Homo sapiens: one gene and its partners. The protein of the gene in region 1 interacts with the protein of each later gene in a pairwise test. Each region holds a gene or a part of one and is shown on either strand. Other genes may lie near its edges.

Region 1 (7,028 bases):
CTCATAATAGTGCAAAATTCCCTATTCACAATAATGCAAAAACTCAATGTTAATTTTCAACAATTGGCATCAACCTGCAAATAGAGCATGGAAAACTTAATTTGATGACAGAATGGATAAAAATGTGATCAATCTTGACAGTGTCAAAGTAAAACTATAGCCAGCTCAAGTTGGGAGTCAGAAAGGAGAAGAGAATGGAGAGGAAAAAAAAGGTAGGGAATGGGTGGAGAACAGGTGATTACTACTTTTCATTATAAATCCTTTGGTTCCTCAGGCATTATTTTAAATAAAAATATTTTTAAATTTTTTTAGGAGAAAGTTGTTACCATTGGCTAATGCTACAAAGGGGTCAAGTGAGAAGGAGTTAGATTTGGCCTGTAAGATCATGGTGACAATGGAAAGGACCATTTCAGCGGCCTATAGGAATGGAAATCAGAGTACAGTGGGCTGAGGAATGAATGGGAAATAAAGACCTGAAGAGAACAATTCTACCTGCAGAATGCTAAGGACAGGAGAGGAGAGGAGAAAGGTTGCTAATAGAAGGGATTAAAAGTAAACAGAAGGTTGCTGCTGCTATTTTTATTTATATAGAAAAGACTTGGGCATAGTTTTTGATTGAGGTGAAAAGGTGATGAAATCCAGAAAACAGGATGAGGAATCAAACTTGGACAAAAGAAAGGGTATCTATCATTTCGAAATAAGAAGAAATGAGGTAGGGGTAGACTAGAGGAGGAGGCAAAAAACTGGCAGGATCACAGAGAGCTTCTGTCCTCTAAAGTGATCAAAGCAAGAGCTAGAAAAGCCTACAGAGCTGGCGATTTCAGAGAGCAGAACAAGAAAACCAACAAGGATTGATTATTGGGTAAATGGACTAAGCTGACAGACGAGTAGTATGGTTGAAAGCATATTTACATTTGAAAATCATTTTATTTTGCCTCATTTGTTGGTTGAATTATTCTTCATGAGAATCTTTTAAGGTAACCTGGTATCTGGATCTAAAAGACTATCTCGGGAGAACAATCAAGGAAAACAAAGTTTTGCTTATTTACACAAGGTCCTACAGCAAGTTACTATCAAGGTAGTAACAACAGTAAGACAGCTGTGTGCCATCTCATTCTGCTCATTTGAGACCCAAACACTTCTAAACAATAGCAACCTATTTCAATCAACCAGCATTTATTAAGATAACATATGCAAGTCTCACAATCCTGCAGAGGAAGTACAATGACCCCTACTTTACAGATATTGAATAAAGAGAGATTCAGTGTCTTGCCTAAAGTAACTGAGCCAAGATCCTAGCCCAAAGTTGTTAGATTCCAAAGCATATATGCCACGTGTAAAGCACATGCATTAAAACCAAATCTGAAGTGTGTTTTGGCCATTCTCAGTCCACTGCAAGTCCATTTGGAAAAAAATCAGATAGGAGAATTTTGAATACATGAAAATTAGCTGAGATTTAATTCAGTGATCCAAACCTGGGTGATCAATATTAAAATGTAAGTGCCAAAATCAGTGCTTTAAATTTTGGGAAAAATCTAATAGCATTCTCTTCATTATGAATTATGAATTAAGACCACTACACTCAGCATCCTAATTCTAAAACTATTCTTTCACCTGTGTTCTCTTTCTCTAATCAATCTAATTCATGGTAGGTTGCTATCTGGCCACTAACTATTACAAATAGAAAGCCATGTTTATGACAAATTTTATAAATGTACTTTGAGTAAGTAGATCTTTTTAAATATATACATGCAAATTAGCAAATAAACTGGTGACTTTAAACTGTGGATGCCTTAGCAAAATTCATCCGTGCTTTTTGCTTTTCTTTATTTCTGTTAATAACCTTCCCTGCTAAAGCAATTCTTCCTCTGGGCATTTATGCTGATGAAACAGTGGTATGTTACCCCATGCCAGCCTTGCCCTAAGTAACCTGAAGCCTGCAGATAGACTTTAATAAAATGAAAATATGTTTCTCCTCCAAAGATTGGATTTTAAATTAAGTTATATCCAAAGCCCTAATTTTAAGAATATAATATTTGATGGCTTCATTAAAAATAAAACAATAGCTAATGATGTTTTGAAGCCAACTGACCAGTTTTTAAAAGTCCTTGGAATAAAACTAAATCTGTGATGACTACAGATACACATGGGTCACTGCTAAGGTAGCCCCAGCTTGGGAACACTGGGATGTCAGGAAAAAATGCTAGTGAGCTTAAAGGGAAGTATTTATTGGGCAGTTTCCACTGCGTGTCCTGGATTACTGGCACATGATACAGTCCGGCTCTAGTGTAACCACCATTGTTTACAATACCCGAGGCAATTTGAAACTCCACGATTTCAACAATGGCATCAACTGACTAAAAAGTTTTGAGTAATGTAATCACAGTGATTTATCACTTCACACAAATGTGTTTCTAGCTCATAAACAGGCTACCCGTGACCCATTTTATCTCACACATAACTGAAATAATGAAGGTACAGCTTGGTAATGCTCTGTATTAAAAATTAGTAAGTTTTTAGTCTTGAAATAAAATTTTACATCCATCATCTCATTTAATCCTAAACCACTTTATTAGTCTACAATCATTGGCATTCTACTTATTCCTGTGCTTGGTAAGCCTTACTCATTGGTCTTATCCTTCTCTTTTTTGTGTGTTTTTTGTTGTTGTCTTTGTTTGCTGGAGTGCAGTGGCATGATTATAGCTCACTGCTGCCTCAATCTCCCAGGCTCAAGTGAGCCTCCTGTCTCAGCCTCACGAGTAGCTGGGACTACAAGTGTCTGCCACTATGCCCAGCTAATTTCCTTGTATTTTTGTAGAGACAGGGTCTTGTTATGCTGTCCATGCTGGTCTTGAACTCCTGAACGCAAACTATCTTCCCGCCTCAGCCTCCCAAAGTGCTAGAATTACAGGTGTGAGGCACCACACCTGGCCTGGTCTTAGCCTTGTCTTCAGTAATCTTTCTTTTATTACTGCTTATTCATGTACACCCTCTGATGCATCTTTTTGGCTAACATTTCTACGCTTTCCTTCTTTGGTAGCTCACCCACTTCTAGAGTTATGTTCACACTCTGTTTATTATTCTGATCTACACTTTGCACTATCCACTCTCATCTTGACCATTTCTATCTTATTGAAATCCAGATTTCACTTCTAAGATTACCTTTCTTCTATGTTACCCTAACATAATTGCTCTGTATTTTTACACATGAACTGCTTTGCCTTAGTTGTCTGTTAAAACCTTCTCTCTTTAAGAGTTACCAATAACATCAGTCTCATTCGAATCTTTGCTTCTGAAGTCTTAGCAATATACTTTATTATACCCAAACTTTTCATTTTCTGTAAGCTCCTACTTTCTGATTACTTGCTTGCCTCTTTTCTTTCCCATCTTTACCCTGGTTTTTAGCTGCTTAAATTGTCCCATTACATCCTGTTCTCCTTCAACCTTTCCACTTAAAAATTCTGATTTTTGAGAAATTTACCTAAATTGTATTTCCCTTTTCTTATATTTTCTAATTTATTTATTCACTGTATCACTGAGGAAACTGAAATTAAGTATAATTACTAATCTTGTCAACTACATAGTTTAGAACATACGCAAAAATGTAAAATAAAAGAAAAAAACAAATGTTGATTCTGCTTATCTAGTTTTAGCCTTATAATCCAAAGACCTTGCATCAAACTGAATCTTCTCTATGTATCATCAGTAGCACCTTTCAAAGTCCATGAAGTCAAAAAGTTTTATTAGGAGAAAAAAAGAAATAAGGTATATGTATAATCCATGGACATGTTAAAATTACACACTGCCCGAGAGTTTTCCCTCATAAAAGTAAACAACTCTTCCTTAAAAGGGAATTATAGGCTGGGTGCGGTAGGTCACTCACGCCTGTAATCCCAGCGCTTTGGGAGGCTGAATCTAGCCAACATGGCAAACCTCCATCTCTACCAAAAATACAAAAATTAGCTGGGTGTGCTGGTGTGTGCCTGTAATCCCAGCTACTCGAGAGGGTGAGGCATGAGAATCGCTTGAACCCCGGAGACAGGGGCTGCAGTGAGCCAAGATCGCGCCACTGCACTCCAGCCTGGGCAACAGAGCGAGACTCTGTCTCAAAAAAAAATAAATAAATAAAGATAATTATATATGTGTATAGCATACAAGTGGGTTTGCCCCCAAGTTAATGATTTGTTAGGGGCTTTATATGGCTAATAATTAAACCTTTAGAACCCTGGCTTCTTTTTTCAAAGTGAGTCTTAGGCTATAAAACTGAACATTCCGTAGGAATAAATGAAGAAAGCTAATACAGTCTTGGAGTTGAGATTAATCATGCTAACAGACTCTGCTTGAATGGTAAAGACAGGCAAAGGAAGACCCTGTATCAAACAACTGTACTGGACAGCAAGGTGATGAGAGTACGTACTGGGGAAAGGGGGAAAACGTAAAAATAAAACCAGAAGAGGCCTTTAGGAACCAATGATGACACATGTCAAGAGCTGCGAGATATAATTAACTCAACTCTCTGCACCTGAGGGCAAAACAAAACCACATAATGGGAACTTAAAGGAGGCAACATATTATGTCTTCCCCTAAATACCAGAGAAAACAATTGACCATCAAAATACTTCCGACATACAATCAAAAAGCAACACAATAATCAGTCTTTGGGATCAAAACAAAACAGAAAAGACTTAACACCCACAGTAAACAAAGTGGAGAAAGTTATAGTGCACAACAGAAGAAACACCTGTGTAACAGTCTTCTACCATACTCTCTTATTACTAGAGATTTTCAAGCAGATAATAAATAATCAAATCAGTGATGACCCGGGAAGACATCATTCACTGGGTTTTGTCCTTGATTATCTCCCAGGTCTCTTTTCTCCAAAAAAGGAAATTATTTAACTTTATACAGACAAATGTCTAGAATAAAAAGAAATATTGTACCGTCTCTTGCTAACCAAAGTTTAATTTTCCATTTGTTCTTAGGTAATATTACCCTTTAAAATGGTCCTTTCCACTAGCTATTCAACATGGAGGTGAAAGCTTTAAATCTTAAAAACCAGTATTAGTTTACGCTAATGGGCTAAAATAAATCAGAGTATGTTTATTATGAATGAAGGATAGGGCTCAATATTGCAATGTCATTTTATTCTCACCACAAAAAGATACCTGTGTTTTCCTTACCAGTGATAGGATATATAAGAGTTAGAAGTCAAAAATGGAAAGCATAAGAGTCATGCACAGAGGTCACCTCGAAATGATGCAAATTATATTAGCTTCTAAACAATTTTACACTGAATTGAGTTCGGTACATCATGGGTTTTTTTGTTTGTCTGAGACAAAGTCTCGCTCTGTCACCCAGGCTGGTAAATAGTGGTTTAAATACTTGTTCTTCTTAAGACTACAGGTTCAGATGCCAGCATAGATCATTTACATTTGCCTACAAAGACTGGTAAGCTATCGCATGCCACACAGCTTAGTGTAACAGGTTGAGATCCAGTCTACAAAAAGTGATACTTATTTTTAAAGTAAAAACATAAGGCTTTTAATCAAACAAATTCATAGTTAGTTGTTCTCTAAGCCATCTTGGTATTCCAGGCACAGTCATATCTGGAGAGACAACTGCTAAATAGCCAGAGCCCTGAAATGTTCACCCTACTCAATGCCTGGTTTTCTTTTCTCCCTTTACCTGATAATGAGCCTGGGCTTGCTGTGCAGAGTTCAAGGTGACATTGCAGAGTTTGCAGTACAGGGGCTTACATAGCTCCTCCAGGGCACAGTCTTGCTCCCCTCCCTTCGATAACTCTTCTTCCCCTGCAAGAGGCAAGGAAGCCTCCTGCCCAAAAGGCTTCTGTGGTGGAAGCTGCAAGGTTCCTGTAGACCTGGTGGCCACTGACATAGGAGGCGAGGGTGAGGGCTGCTTAGGTGGAGGAAGCACGGCGTGTTGCAAGAGGATCATTGGGTAGGGAAGCCTGGGGCATAATCCAGTGGGTGATGAGAAGCAAGGTCTTCAAATCTGAATCAACAGCAAAAAAACAGAAAAAAAAACTCACTTGAAAATCAGACTTCAGCAAGATAACATGTAAATGACAACATAATCTGACCCTTTCTTCTACTTCTCCAAACCCATCTTTGGGACTTCTTTCCTTTGGCCTCATTTAGCAGACTTCCCCTGCCTGTTAATTCATGTTAACACGGTGCTCTTCCACTGAGAATGGCTTTATAGATTTGGCTTTATTTTGCTTGGCACAGTTCCAACTGCTATCCCTTTGGCCCGTGAACATTAACAGCATTGCATCCACGGCTAAATCTAAAAGTCACATGGCTGAAATGGACATCAAATGTCACCTAGTCCAGACCCCTTCCCTCAGGCACACTTACACTTAAACACTCTTAATGATAATCATGCACAGACAAAAACACCACGAGCTGTCCAGGTGTGGTGGCTCACGCCTGTAATCCCAGCATTTTGGGAGGCCAAGGTGGGCAGATCACCTGAGGTCAGGAGTTCGAGACCAGCCTGTTCAAGACAACATGGTGAAACCCCGTCTCTACTAAAAATACAAAAATTAGCCAGGTGTGGTGGCGAGTGCCTGTAATCCCAGCTACTCAGGAGGCTGAGGCAGGAGAATCGCTTGAACCGGGGAGGCAGAGGTGGTCGTGAGCCGAGATCGTGCCATTGCACTCCAGCCTGGGTGACAGAGCAAGACTGTGACTCAAAAAAAAAAAAGACCACCAGCTAAAAATCTTAGCAAACATATCTTCCAACCAACCAATATCAAAAAGAGTGTATAAAAGAATATCATCTTGCAGAATTCTTAAAGCACTTATAGAACTAGCTAAAATTTCAGGGAACTCTAGGAGTAGCCTAAAGTATGACAGAAATAAATAAAATATGTTCCTTCTGATCAACTAGCAATATTTAAGTAGTTGAGCAAATGTATAGCAGAGGTGGCAAACAGCCTGTGGGCCACATACAGCCACAGATGTGCTGTTTGGAATATACAGTTTTGTTTTCATTTTTTTAAGTCG
Region 2 (7,028 bases), on another chromosome or scaffold:
CACTTACAATAGTCAATTTAGGTTATATAATTTTTACCTCCATTTTTTTTTTTTTGAGACAGAGTCTCGCTCTGTCCCTGAGGCTGGAGTGCAGTGGCACAATCTCGGCTCACCGCAAGCTCCGCCTCCCGGGTTCATGCCATTCTCCTGCCTCAGCCTCTCGAATAGCTGGGACTACAGGCGCCCACCACCACGCCCGGCGAATTTTTTGTATTTTTAGTAGAGATGGGGTTTCACCATCTTAGCCAGGATGGTCTCAATCTCCTGACCTCATGATCCACCCGCCTTGGCCTCCCAAAGTGCTGGGATTACAGGCGTGAGCCACTGCGCCCAGCCACCTCAATTTTTTTTTTCTAAGTGACATTCTATATCTCCTTCCTTTGAATCTGGGCTCCATGACTGCTTGACCTGTAGAATATGGCAGACACGATGCTGTGATTTCTGAGCCTAAGCCTTAAGAAACTGGCAGCTGCTTCCATTTCCCATCTTCTAGGATGCTTACTCTTGGCAACCAGCCACCATAACATGAAGAAGTATAAGCAATCCTTCCATAGGTCACCCAGGGATGAACTGAGGTCCTGGGGCCAGAACCCCCAGCTGAGCTCCTAGCTGACAGCAAGCACCAACTTACCAGCCACGTGAGTGAGCCACCTTAAAAGCAGATCCTCCGGCCCCGTGCAGATCCACTTCAACCAAAGCTGTGTGGAACGAAGACAAGCTACACCCTTGCCAAGCCCAGCCTCAATCACAGACTCATAAGCAAAATAAATGCCTGGAGATGTTTAAACCATCACTAAATTCTATGATGGTCTGTTATGAGGCAAAAGGTAACTGGCGCTTCTATATAATCAAGAGTGGCTGGTAAAAAACAGCTTCAGAAAATCCTCTAACCTGGTACCCATATATCACAGTAGATTCTGGCAAGCATAATCTTGAGCACCGAAGACTTCATCCATACATGTTCTTCACAACTCAACTGAATCACAAACTTTCTAACGTGTTCACACCGTATCATGTCACTCAAAACCATGCTACAGACTGAAAAAGAAGGCAACTGACTTTCTTGTTAAGAAATTTTAAAAGGAAAAAAGGAGTAAAAAGCAAGAAAGCTACAGAGCATAAAATCTTGGAGGCATTCAAATAAAAATTATGGACAGCTGTCAATGTGCCTTCTTAGAAAAGATAATGTGCGGTGACATCTCCCCACTACCCTCCTACCCTGTCGAAGCGTCAGGGAGCCTGGGCTCAACTCCTCACCTCCAGCCTCTCTGGCAGGGGCTCATTCTGCAGGATCCTCAACGCTTTGGCAGCAGCATCGTGTTTCGCAGCCTGTCTTGTCTTTCCTTTGCCATTAAATTGCTGTCCTCCCACAGAAAGTTCCACTTGATAAAGTAAAGGTGGAACTGGAAATGGGTAAAAGTACCTAGAAATAAAAGGAGGTTAGGCAAATTACAGTCTCAAGTTGATAAGTCACCTATACACTCTCTGGCAAATGCAAGTATTTCCTTCATCACGATCCTACTCACATTAGTGTTTGATGCTAATCACTCTTCATCAATATATCCAGAGATTTCATAAAAGCTTAAACTGGATTAGAATTGCTACACAGTATAAGCAAAGAGTGTTTAGCAATCCAAACTTACATCTCACAAAATACAATGGCTTATAAATTATGAGTTTATCACACTAACCTGCACTGACAAAATCTAAAATGAATTAGGCTTTGGCTGAGACAAAAACTTGGCTTGCTCTGCCTTCTCAAACCTTAGCTTTAAATTTGCATGTCTCCAATAGGAGGCTGGGAATTTTAATGCACAAGTCTTTCAAAAGGACCCTCATTTCAAGAAATCCCAATAAGCTGTAGCCTACCTAGCAGAACCCAGTTTCTTATCCATTTCCCTAGCAGAACCCAGTTTCTTATCCATTTCATAGCTTATATTTTTAAAATGACTATCCCCCAACAGAGAGCAGGGAAATGAAGAATTCCATTTTGCTCATCATCTATCCACTAATGTCTTTTTTTTTTTTTTTTTTTTGTGAGATGGAGTTTCTCTTGTTGCCCAGGCTGGAGTGCAGTGGTGCGATCTCGGCTCACTGCAACCTCCGCTTCCTGGGTTCAAGCGATTCTCCTGCCTCAGCCTCCCGAGTAGCTGGGATTACAGGCACCTGCCACCATGCCTGTATTTTTAGTATTTTTAGTAGAGACAGGGTTTCACCATGTTGGCCAGGCTGGTCTCAAACTCCTGACCTCATGATCCGCCTGCCTTGGCCTCCCAAAGAGCTGGGATTACAGGCGTGAGCCACCACACCTGGCCTCCACTAATGTCTTATTACTGCCAGCAGAAGATTTTTAATCCATGGCATTTTCAGGTTTCAATTAATATTTTATTGCACCAAAGCTATTTACAAAACGCACAAGTTCAAAAGTCAAAAAGTACCCAATAATCAGGTAATCTACAAATGCTGGGAATCATTGTCTTGCAGGAATCATGATGCTATGGGAATCATGTTTAAATATGATTCAGTTACACAAAGCAGTTACAAGGGTTATCTTTAGCCAGGCTGCTTGAGGGCACAAGCCACACTGCCAGCAAGAAATATGCTCAGGCCCTACCCAAGAGCAGTAGTTAAAGAAGCACAAAGGAGCCGGGCGTGGTGGCTCATGCCTGTAATCCCAGCACTTTGGGAGGCCGAGGTGGGCGGATCATGAGGTCAGGAGATTGAGACTATCCTGGCTAACAAGGTGAAACCCCGTCTCTACTAAAAATACAAAAAATTAGCCGGGTGTGGTGGCAGGCGCCTGTAGTCCCAGCTACTTGGGAGGCTGAGGCAGGAGAATAGCATGAACCCGGGAGGCAGAGCTTGCAGTGAGCCGAGATCATGCCACTGCACTCCAGCCTGGGCAACAGAGCGAGACTCCGTCTCAGAAAAAAAAAAAAAAAAAGAAGCACAAAGGGCCGGGTGTGGTGGCTCACACTTTAATCCTAGCACTGCGGGAGGCCAAGACAGGAGGACTCCTTGAGCCCAGAAGTTCAAGACCAGTCTGGGCAACATACGGAGACCCTGTCTCAATGAATTAAAAAAAAAAAAAAGAGGCGCAGCCAGGTGTGGTGGCTCACGCCTGTAATCCCAGCACTTTGGGAGGCCAAGGTGGGCAGATCATCTGAGGTCCGGAGTTCAAGACCACCCCAGCCAACATGGCAAAACCCCGTCTCTACTAAAAAATACAAAAAAAAATCAGCCAGGCGTGGTGGCAGGTGCCTGTAATCCCAGCTATTCGGGAGGCTGAGACAGCCTCCTCACTTGAACCCAGGAGGCAGAGGATACAGTGAGCCGAGACTGCACCACTGCACTCCAGCCTGGGTGACAGAGCAAGACTCTGTCTCAAAAAAAAAAAAAAAAAAAAAAAAAAAAAAAAGAAAGAAAGAAAAAAAAGAAAAGGCGGGGGAGGGGCACAAAGGCACAAGAGTAATTAAGACCAACTTCAACACTTGGCAGGCCCAAACCAAATCATTACTCCCTCCACAATCTAGAGGTACTGGTTTATGTAAAAGATCAGACACGTTTTCTCCTGTATTTTACAAAAAAAAAAAAAAAAAAACACATACCTCGGGGGATAAGCACCTCCTCTCATGTTGTAGTTATAGGTGGACTGCATCCGAGAGTAAGGGTCAACAGGCTTATACATTGGTTTTTTTCCAAGTTTCATGCACAGTGCATTTAGTTCTACAGTAGGGGTTATGCTTTCTGCAAGAAAGAATCGACAAAGAACTGTTTTTTTCTGGTATGAGAATGATACTCACTAAAATAAAATGTAATAGCATGCTTTCTGCTAATTGGATTCATGATACTTTACATAAAAGGACCTGGGTGGCTCACTGCTAGGCATCAGACAAGGAAATCCAAGAATATGCTGTGATTTCTAGATATTTATACACAGTCGACAGCACAAAATCTACTCTGAGGGTTACCAGAGGAGCCACAATTTAACCCAAGACATTATCAGTGAAAGCTATATGGTACAGCTGTCAGAAATAAGTTCCAAAACACATCAAATTTCACGATTAAAAAATCCCATGTAAATGTCCAAATTGTTTTACTGTTTGAGAATACTTAATCAATATAACCTTGGTTGTACTGATTTACAGGATTATTGGCTTGCACTCAGAAGTATGTCCGTACACAGTATTGAACGATGCATTTATTACATTACTAACTGGATGCAAAGCACTGTGCTAAGCTTAAGAAACACAATTCCTGGCCAGGCGTGGTGGCTCACGCCTGTAATCCCAGCACTTTGGGAGGCCAAGGCAGGAGGATCACAAGGTCAGGGTATCGAGACCATCTTGGCTAACATGGTGAAACCCTATCTCTACTAAAAAATACAAAAAATTAGCCAGGCATGGTGGCGGGTGCCTGCAGTCCCAGCTACTCAGGAGGCTGAGGCAGAAGAATGGTGTGAACCTGGGAGGCGGACCTTGCAGTGAGGGTGGCTCACACCTGTAATCCCAGCACTTTGGAAGGCCGAGGCGGGTGGATCACCTGAGGTCAGGAGTTCGAGACCAGCCTGGCTAACACGGTGAAACCCCGTTTCTACTAAAAATACAAAAAATTAGCCAGGCATGGTGGCGCATGCCTGTAATCCCATCTACTCAGGAGGCTGAGGCAGGAGAATCGCCTGAACCCAGGAAGCAGAGGTTGCAGTGAGTCGAGATTGCGTCACTGTACTCCAGATGAGGAAACAAGAGCAAAACTCTGTCTTAAAAAAAAAAAAGAAACACAATTCCTGCCCCAGAGGAGTTCAAAAAACACAAAGCACACTCAAAGAGTTACAATACAACATGATGTGCAACTTAAAGGTGAAAAATCAGTGAGGAGGTGGCAACCCAATTCTCTTCACAGAAGTCACACAAGGCCCACAAAATATTCAGGTATTTCCATTCTTGACATTTCTAATGAATTTGACCTGTGGTCATACTTGCTACGAAAATGAGTTCCATTTTCATACACAACAAGTTATCTCAAAATTATCAACTTCAGAAAATACATGCTATTCATTTTCCAATTTTTTTTTCTTTCAGTTCATCCAATCCATAAACCTTTAAAAACCATTTAAAAAGAAAACCAGCCTGGAAAGATTAGTGTCAGTGCACAATATTTAAAAACAACACTTTCATATCAAAAACAGAACACTAGAAATGGCAAAATCTAAATGCACATAAAAATCCACTTTAAAATGCCTCTTTAGGATGTATATAGAGAGAAATAAAAAAGACCTGATTCTGTACTATAACTGGTTCAACTAAATTTAATGCATGAATCAAATCTATAAGAATATCTTTGGGGTTTGCACAGAGGGCCACATGAATTACAGATCTCTCTCTTCCTTGCATTAGAATTATATTTTTTACAAAATTCATATAATTGCATTTTAAGTACAGTCTGAATCATTTTAAGAGCAGCTCTGATCCACAGAATTTGTCTGCAATAGAGAATAAACATGAAGAAAGTATACTGCAAAGAAATCAAAAGTAACAAGAAAGATGTGACTGGTAACTTCCCAGATTCCTTCCTACATACGAAGACCTGGGATGACTTCATGCATGTGAGGGGGTCTCTGCTAAAACAGCCATTAATGACACAGCCTCCAGGTCACTGATCCCCAACCCTTCACCAGCCATGCCTTCTTGATTAGTATGCTCCCTGAATGGGCTCCTTGTCTGAGGAGATACTACCTGCTGGCTTGTATTTAAGTAATATTTACATTTTTCTCATTCTTTTTAATAACTAAGAGACATACAACTGGCAATAAGCACTTCTGACCAACAAAATTACAATCAATATTACCACACTGACTTGATGTGACTCTAAATTAAACTTATATTCTTGCTAATCTATACACTCTTATCAAAAATATATTTTCATTAAACTTCGGAAATCTTTGAAATTATCTGGTCACCCGCCATCCTTCCTATGACCGCCTTTCCAGATTGTCAGGCGTTAAGGCATCATAGATTGGAAACCACTGCTTTACAATGAGGTTAAGGATTCCTAAAAAATAAGCATTTGTCACTGGTAGTGTAGAATCTGTGCTTTCAAAATCAACAAGTTAAGAAACCATTCATATACATACTACATGGTACCTCTAGACACACTTTTGAAAGGTACCTGTTTGGCCCATGCATAAGACCTGGATTCCTTCCTTCGCTACCAAAAGGGCTGACTATGGGCTTAGGAAATTTTGTTCCCTCCAAAGCTTTAGCAGCAGCTGTGTGTTTGACCTTTTTAATACCAGTTCACTCAGCTCCCCATTGCTGATTTCCAAGTGTCAGCAGTACTGTAAATTCCTAGAAATGAAAAGTGTGAGCTCTCAAATTCATGAAACCTGACATTGACTGTAATATGTCACTTGAACCTTGAACACTTTCTATGGTCATGGTTTAAGAGGCCTGGTCTTATCTTGATAATTCATCCTGTCATCCCCTTCTTATCCTTTTTTGTTGTTTTTTATAAACAACAACAAAAAAAAGAGATTGTGTGTGTATGCACTGAAATTTTTTTTTTTTTTTAAGAGACACAGTCTCACTCTGTCCCCAGGTTAGAGTGCAGTGGTGTGATCTTGGCTCAATGCAACCTCCACCTCCTGGGTTCAAGAAATTCTCCTGCCTCAGTCTCCCGAGTAGCTGGGATTACAGGCACCTGCCACCATGCCCGGCTAATTTCTGTACTTTTAGTAGAGACAGGGTTTCACCATGTTGGCCAGGCTGGTCTCGAACTCCTGACCTCAAGTGATCCACCTGCCTCAGTCTCCCAAAGTGCTGGGATTACAGGCATGACCCACCACGTCCAGCCTCAAAATTCTCTTCCAATTACTTCTCATGAAAGATATTTTGCAAACTTGATTTAAACACACAGCAGTACTTCACACAAATTAAGACAATGTTTGTTTTGATGCTGCAATGTGTTTGTGGGCTCTTGTTTGAAAACATAACCACCCTTTTTTTCAGTTTTTGAAATGGGGTCTTGCT
Region 3 (7,028 bases), on another chromosome or scaffold:
AGTGGCGCGATCTCGGTTCACTGCAACCTCTGCCTCCCGGGTTCAAGTGATTCTCCCACCTGAGCCTCCCGAGTAGCTGGGATTACAGGTGCACGCCACCTTGTCTGGCTAATTTTTGTATTTTTAGTAGAGACAGGGTTTCACCGTGTTGGTCAGGCTGGTCTCAAACGCCTGACCTCAGGTGATCTGCCCGACTTGGCCTCCCAAAGTGCTGGGATTACAGGTGTGAGCCACCGCACCTGGCCTCCAGCCTCTTTTCTTTTTTTTTTTTGAGACAAGTCTAACTCTGTCACCCAGGCTGGAGAGCAGCGGCATGATCATGGCTCACTGCTGCCTCAACCTCAGAGGCTCAAGTCATTGTCCCCACCTCAGCCTCCCTAGTAGACTGGACTACAGGCATGTGCCACCACACCCAGCTAATTTTTCATCAGCCACCTTTTCTAACCATCTGTCTGCACTGACTTCCCAGGTTCTGCATCATTATTGGTTTACTGAGACAATGCACTTCACCCGTCCTTCAATCCCAAAGTAGCACAGAATATCAGGAGTTCTTTGAGCCCCTAAGTGCCCTACTTTCCCAGGGTCAGGGGACCCTGACAAGCAAGGTCCCCACATCTTTCTGTGGTTGGATAGGGATATAAAATTTCTCACACATGTTAAATCAAGATACTTTGGCCAGGCACGGTGGCTCACACCTGTAATCCCAGCACTTTGGGAGGCTGAGGTGTACAGATCACTTGAGGTCAGGAGTTTGAGACAAGCCTGGTCAACATGGTGAAACTCCCATCTCTACTAAAAAAAAAAAAACTTTGGGAGGCCGAGGTGGGTGGATCATGAGGTCAGGAGTTTGAGACCAGCCTGGCCAACATGGTGAAACCCCGTCTCTACTAAAAATGCAAAAATTAGGTGGGTGTGGTGGCACACAGCAGTAGTCCCAGCTACTCAGGAGGCTGAGGCAGGAGAATTGCTTGAACCTGGGAGGCAGAGGTTACAGTGAGCTGAGATCATGCCACCGCACTCCAACCAGGGCAACAGATCAAGACTCCATCTTGGGGAAAAAAAAAAAAATTAGCCAGGCTTGGTGGTGGATGCCTGTATTCCCAGCTTCTTGGGAGACTGAAGCAGGAGGATCGCTTGAACCCAGGAGGCAGAGGTTGCAGTGAGTTGAGATTGTGCCACTGTACTCCAGCCTGGGCAACAGAAACAATACTCCGTCTCAAAAAAAAAAAAAAAAAAAAAAAATCAAGACACCAAACACACACAACTAATTAGCTCTATAAATTGAATTAAAAGAAAATCCATACTGACTTGCTTTCCCATCTGTCCATATTTGTCTATCCAAATGATTAAGGGCTAGAGAAAATACAGATGATGATGGCTGAGATGGGATAAAACTATAAATTGACTTGGTTCCATTTACCTCCCAGAATCAGCATACAGTGACAAAGTAGAGAGAAAAGGTCTGGGCACCACAAACTTGTACTTGTGCTAGAAATGTAGGTGCCTTTTCATTTGCCCAGCAGGGCTAGTTTAACAGCCAGGGTATCTTCTGGGACTCTTCCCCAAATCTTGCTCTACCGCTGACTAGCTATGTGATCTTGGGCAAGTTTCTCAACCTTTCTGTGCCTTTCTTCCTTTACTTATAAATAAGGATAACAGAATTTGCTTCATAGAGTTAGTCTGAGGATTCAGTAAGTAGATACGTGTAATCTTAGAACAGTGTCTGGCACACAGTAAAACTCTATCTTTGCTATTGTTGTTTTTGTTATAACTGTATAGATGTTAGCTATTATTACTATCCACAAGAATGGGACATATCAATTATATATATTACTGGCCTAGTAATTATATATACTTAGAATCCCTGATCAATAAAATAAATTGTAATAGAAATTTTTATTCCTCAAACACATTTTTGTTCCTCAAACACATTTTTAAATAAACATGTCTTGGGAAAGCCAAAGAAAAAAAAATCATACCTATATCCAAATATGTTATATTAAAACCTTGTTCCTTGGCAATTTCACTAAGCAGCTGGATGTAATCTGTATTTGGAATACTAAGGAGGCTTCTTTTCAGTAAGTTGATCTTTTCACCAGGAGAATTCCTCAAGGAATGCCAAGTACATCCTAAAGAATGTCCTACTACATTTGTCTGAAAAACAGAGATGAAGATTTAGACTCTTGACTAGGACTGGGTTCCAACACCCGTACCAGTATCATTAAAAGTACTTATTAAGCACTCACATTTAATATGTTATAAAGCATGTTTAAATGGATAACATTTGGTTAATTTTCCAATTTAAACAAGACAACATTAAAAAGTACACATTTAACAATACTATATGTTTTTAAGAAGCACTTGCAATAATATACTGAAAGCATTTTGTATTTTGTATAGTACAAATGTTTCTCAGTCAAGTTTTCTGATGGTCACATTAAGAGGTACAAGATATCTGGAAGCACCATAAGTAAATCCACAAATAATTAAATCTGCCTAATGGAGCAATTTGCAGATTAAAATATAGAACAATTTTCATATCTTTGGTTTTTTTTGTATTAAATACCAATCACTATAACTGACAGCTATCAAACAGGAAAAAAAACAGAAAAAAAAACTAAAAAAAACATGAAATGTGCGCGTTGGGTTTGAGGAACAAGTCATTCAAATAAATGACAGGATGTCAAAAAGTTCTTATCAGACTTCTATCCCAGAACCCAACTGAGTATTTTTTTCCTTTTTCTTTCTGCTTTTCCTCTTTCCTTTATCCTCCCCTATATCCTTCCCTTTTCATCTCTGTCCTTAGAATGCCTTATATTTCCATATTAGTTTATGGTTCTCAAATTGCTTTCATATGCCATTAATAAAAACAACTACTTTCTGAAGTAAGTAGGGTTACTACTCTTAATATTGTTTTATTAATGAGCACGACAGAGGGGAGGCAATTTCCAAAAGATTTTAGAGATGGCATGATATGGAATTAAGTAATTTATTAGATTTACCAAATAAAAATTTACATTATAGAAACTTTAAAATACTGTTTTTAAATAAAGAACACTATTTACATGGTTAAAAATATACATGCACTAAGAACAAATATATAATGAAGAGTACAGTCTCTTTTCCTTACCACCCATTCCCTGAAGACCTCTGTTCTATTTCTTAGACATACTGTTAAACATTTTTCAGTATCTTCCCATAAATGTTCTATGCATATGCAAGCACACACAATCTTTTAAAGCAAATGATAACTTACTCCTCTACATCTTGTTCATTTTTCTTTTATCAGTGCACATATATGCACTGTATTTACCTTACGGATCTCCAACTGTGAGCTTTAGGTTGTTTCTAGTTTCTTGCTTTTACTAGCAATAAACACTCTTTTGCACTTGAATGAGTTTCTCTGTAGAATTATTTCTAGAAGTGGAACTGCTAAGTCAAAGAACATGTACACTTTTAATTTTGATAAATACTTCCAAACTGATTTCTGAACCAATTTATACTCCTACCAACTGTCTTGGAGGGGGCTTGTTTTCTCATACCCTCACTAATACCAGCTATTATCAAATTTTGTAGTTTTTGCCAATCTAAAAGGTGAAAATATTTTATCTTGCATGAATAAAGTTGAATATTTTTTCTTTTTTTCCCTTAATCGTTTGCATTTCTTCTACTGGGTTGTCTTTTTAACTGATGCATAAGAGCTTTTTAAATTTTCTCTTTTTTAAGAGTTAGGATCTTGCTGTGTGGCTTAACTCTCAAACTCTTGGGCTCTAGCAGTCCTCCCACCTTAGCCTCCCGAGTAGCTGGGACTACAGGCATGTGCTGCTGTGTGCAGCAGATGTGTACAAAAGAGCTTTAAAGGTAGTACTGAAAACAGTTCCTTTATAGTTCTATGTTGAAAATAATTTCTTCCCACTTTTTTATTGTCTTAATTTACAGATTTTTTGCTGTGCAGTAGGTTTTATGTTGTCAAATGTATTAATCTTTTAACCTAGGTTTTAAGTTAAAATGCTTTCCCCATGCTAAGATTTTTAAAAAGAAAAACTCTTCCATGTTTCCTAATATTTATACTGTTTCAAATTTTTATGTTCAAATCTTTGATCCATCTGAAATTCACTTTGGTGTAAGGAATAAGGAAGCATTCTAAATAGATGTCATACACATCAACAAATATATATATATAGCCCCCACCCAAATGTGGATGTAAACTGTTTCTACATCATTATTGAATAATCCATCCTCTCACCCACTGATCTGAAATCTCACTGTTGCTATATACTATGGTCCTATGTGGATTAGCATCTACGCCTGGATTCTCTATTCGCTCCTCTGACTATTCCTGGCCCAGTAACTTGTCTGACAAGTTCAGTTTTACAGTATGTTTTGTTCTCTAGTAAAGCAGCACACCCTTGCTCTCCCAACTCTTCCTTTTCAGTTTTCTTGGCTATTCTTGAGGGTTTTTTTCCAGATAAACTTCAATAAACGTGTATCAAGGTCCAAAATGAACGCTGGTAGGTTTTTTTTTTTTTCGAGTTGGGGTCTCACTCTGTCGCCTAGGCTGGAGTGCAGTGGCGTGGATCTCTGCTCACTGCAAGCTCCGCCTCCCGGGTTCATGCCATTCTCCTGACTCAGCCTCCGGAGTAGCGGGGACTACAGGCGCACGCCACCAGGCCCGGCTAATTTTTTTTTTTGTATTTTTAGTAGAGACGGGGTTTCACCGCGTTAGCCAGAATGGTTTCTATCTCCTGACCTCATGATCCGCCCACCTCGGCCTCCCAAAGTGCTGGGATTACAGGCGTGAGCCACTGTGCCTGGCCAAACGCTGGTAGGTTTTGAGTGAGACCACATTACATTTAAATATATTTACAATGTTTTCTGCTCTATTCTTTAGTAGACTTTTCCTCACGTGGTCCTACGCATTTCTTTCTAAGTTTATTTTCATATAGCCTATCCCTGTCTACAATTTAAATTGGGATCTTCTATATTCTAGTTATTATTTGTAAATAAGAAAACTACTGACTTTTTTCTAGTATATTTTCTCAGAATAGGATTTTCTATTTTTCTATAAAATGACCAATGTTATGAAGCTTCGTAAGTTTTGTCAAAGTGATACACACATACAGCAAAAAATCAAATAGTACAGAAGTATAAAAGCAACAACCTCTGCCTTGCCCCTTCTCCACCTTCAGGTCCCCTTCCCAGATACAATAATTTTTAGCTTTTTATTTTTAATTATTCTGGTTGTTACCTACATAACTCTGGGCAATATGGAAAAGTTATTGATTTTGTATATTAATTTCATAATCAGTTACCTTGATGAATTCTCTTGTTTCTAGTAGTTTTTCTTTAGGGTTTTAAAGGGATACAATCATACCATTTGCAGTTAGTAACCATTTTATCTCCTCTTATTTCCAACTTCGTACTGTTTTCTCTTGTCTAATTTGTTTTTAATTGGTGGGTACTTCTAGAACAAGGTTAAATAAAAGTGGTGTTGGTGGGCGTCCTTATTTCTGATATTAATGGGAATGAGTATAATGTATAAATATATAACCATGATTTTGGTTTTTTTCCAAGTTTTTATCAGTAATGATTGCTGAGTTTTATCAAAATTTTTTTGGCATCCATTGAGAGGATTATATATTACTCTTTGACACATTAATGTGGTTAATTAAAGTAACCAACTTATTAACCTTGAAATAGTCTTAGTTAAATAAACCCTACTTGTCAATGCTATATCATTATTTTAATATTGTACTGAACATTTTACAAAGGTGTTTCACCATAAGGCATATTGATCTGTAATTTTTTTTTTTCTGTTGAACTTGCTATTGTCAGGTTTTGGTGTATTATGTTGGTTTTGGAGAATAAATTTAAAAGTTTCCTTTATGTTATCTATACATTGCCTGAAAAGAGTTTAAATAGCATTGAAAATGATCTCTTCTTTGAAGATTTAACCAATTTCACCTGTAAATCTGTCTGTGCTTTGTAATTTTGGTGATACTGTTGACTCAAATTCCAAAAGCAGTAAATGCAGTGTTTTATATTTTTCTATTAAAAATGTAAAATCAAATTATATTACTCATTTGTATATAGTCTTTGATTTTTTTCTAAAGAATGAGCCCTTATTTTATCATAAGCTCAGTGAAGAAGTTGCTACAGTTGTACTTTTTTATTTCCCACCTAATACACTACTCTCAGATAATGTACCACATGACACACCTATCTGTGAATATCAGAATCTGAAGTTATATATCATGTGTAGGCCAATCTCTTAAGCTCTGAATTTATTTGTTCAGCTACTCGATATATTCACTTAGCTATTCCATAAGCTATTCCATAAGCACTTCAAATTCAATATATTTAGTTCATTATCTGCTCCCCTCTTGCTATTGCCAAGTTTAAAATAGTAATTTCCTCCCTTTCCCTTGCTTCCCACATCCAATCAATTACCATGCCCCTTTACCTCAGTTTTCTAAATAACTTTAAAATCTACCCATCTCTCTCCATTTTCCCAGCCACTACCTTAGTTCAAGCTGTCATGTCTCACGTGTCTTCTGTAACAGCACTCTCGCAGGTCTCTTTGATCCTAATTTCACTCACTTACCATAATGCAGCCAAGTGATTTCCTTGTAATGTATAGACTAGATCCTGTCCTTCCCAGATTAAAATTCTTTAATGACTTTGTACTACCCTTGGGATAAAGTTCACTTTCCTTATATAGGGGTCCCTTTAAGATTTAATCCCTCTTTACTTTGCTGGCCTCATTGAGACTCCCTCCCTCCAACACTATGTTCTACACACAACAAATCACTTAGGGCTCCTAGACTGCATACGATGTTTCACTCCTGGCCTTTGCACACGCTTTTTCTTCTCTCTGGAATTCTTTTCCCCCATTCTACAGGTCTTGGCTTAGACATTACTTCTTCCTGGAATCTGTCTCCAAACCTGTTTTTGTTGGATGCCTTCTTCTATGTTCCCACATCACACTCTGTAAGGACTAGCCTATAGAATTCCTTCCTTTCAGTAGT

The links. Proteins that work in one complex are often made in the same cells at the same time.
Region 2: the proteins of ZMAT3 (region 1) and STAU1 interact in binary tests that used the Homo sapiens proteins (3 or more experiments, as listed by UniProt).
Region 3: the proteins of ZMAT3 (region 1) and PRKRA interact in binary tests that used the Homo sapiens proteins (3 or more experiments, as listed by UniProt).

The regions. Positions count from the first base shown.
Region 1 is NC_000003.12:179,061,798-179,068,825, forward strand, and holds part of ZMAT3 (zinc finger matrin-type protein 3), read right to left. Parts: intron 6,013-7,028; 5' UTR 5,956-6,012; coding exon 5,686-5,955; intron 1-5,685. UniProt on the Homo sapiens protein: Acts as a bona fide target gene of p53/TP53. May play a role in the TP53-dependent growth regulatory pathway. May contribute to TP53-mediated apoptosis by regulation of TP53 expression and translocation to the nucleus and nucleolus.
Region 2 is NC_000020.11:49,150,325-49,157,352, forward strand, and holds part of STAU1 (double-stranded RNA-binding protein Staufen homolog 1), read right to left. Parts: intron 3,748-7,028; coding exon 3,609-3,747; intron 1,424-3,608; coding exon 1,258-1,423; intron 1-1,257. UniProt on the Homo sapiens protein: Binds double-stranded RNA (regardless of the sequence) and tubulin.
Region 3 is NC_000002.12:178,434,166-178,441,193, forward strand, and holds part of PRKRA (interferon-inducible double-stranded RNA-dependent protein kinase activator A), read right to left. Parts: intron 6,079-7,028; exon of another isoform or gene 4,702-6,078; intron 2,155-4,701; coding exon 1,980-2,154; intron 1-1,979. UniProt on the Homo sapiens protein: Activates EIF2AK2/PKR in the absence of double-stranded RNA (dsRNA), leading to phosphorylation of EIF2S1/EFI2-alpha and inhibition of translation and induction of apoptosis.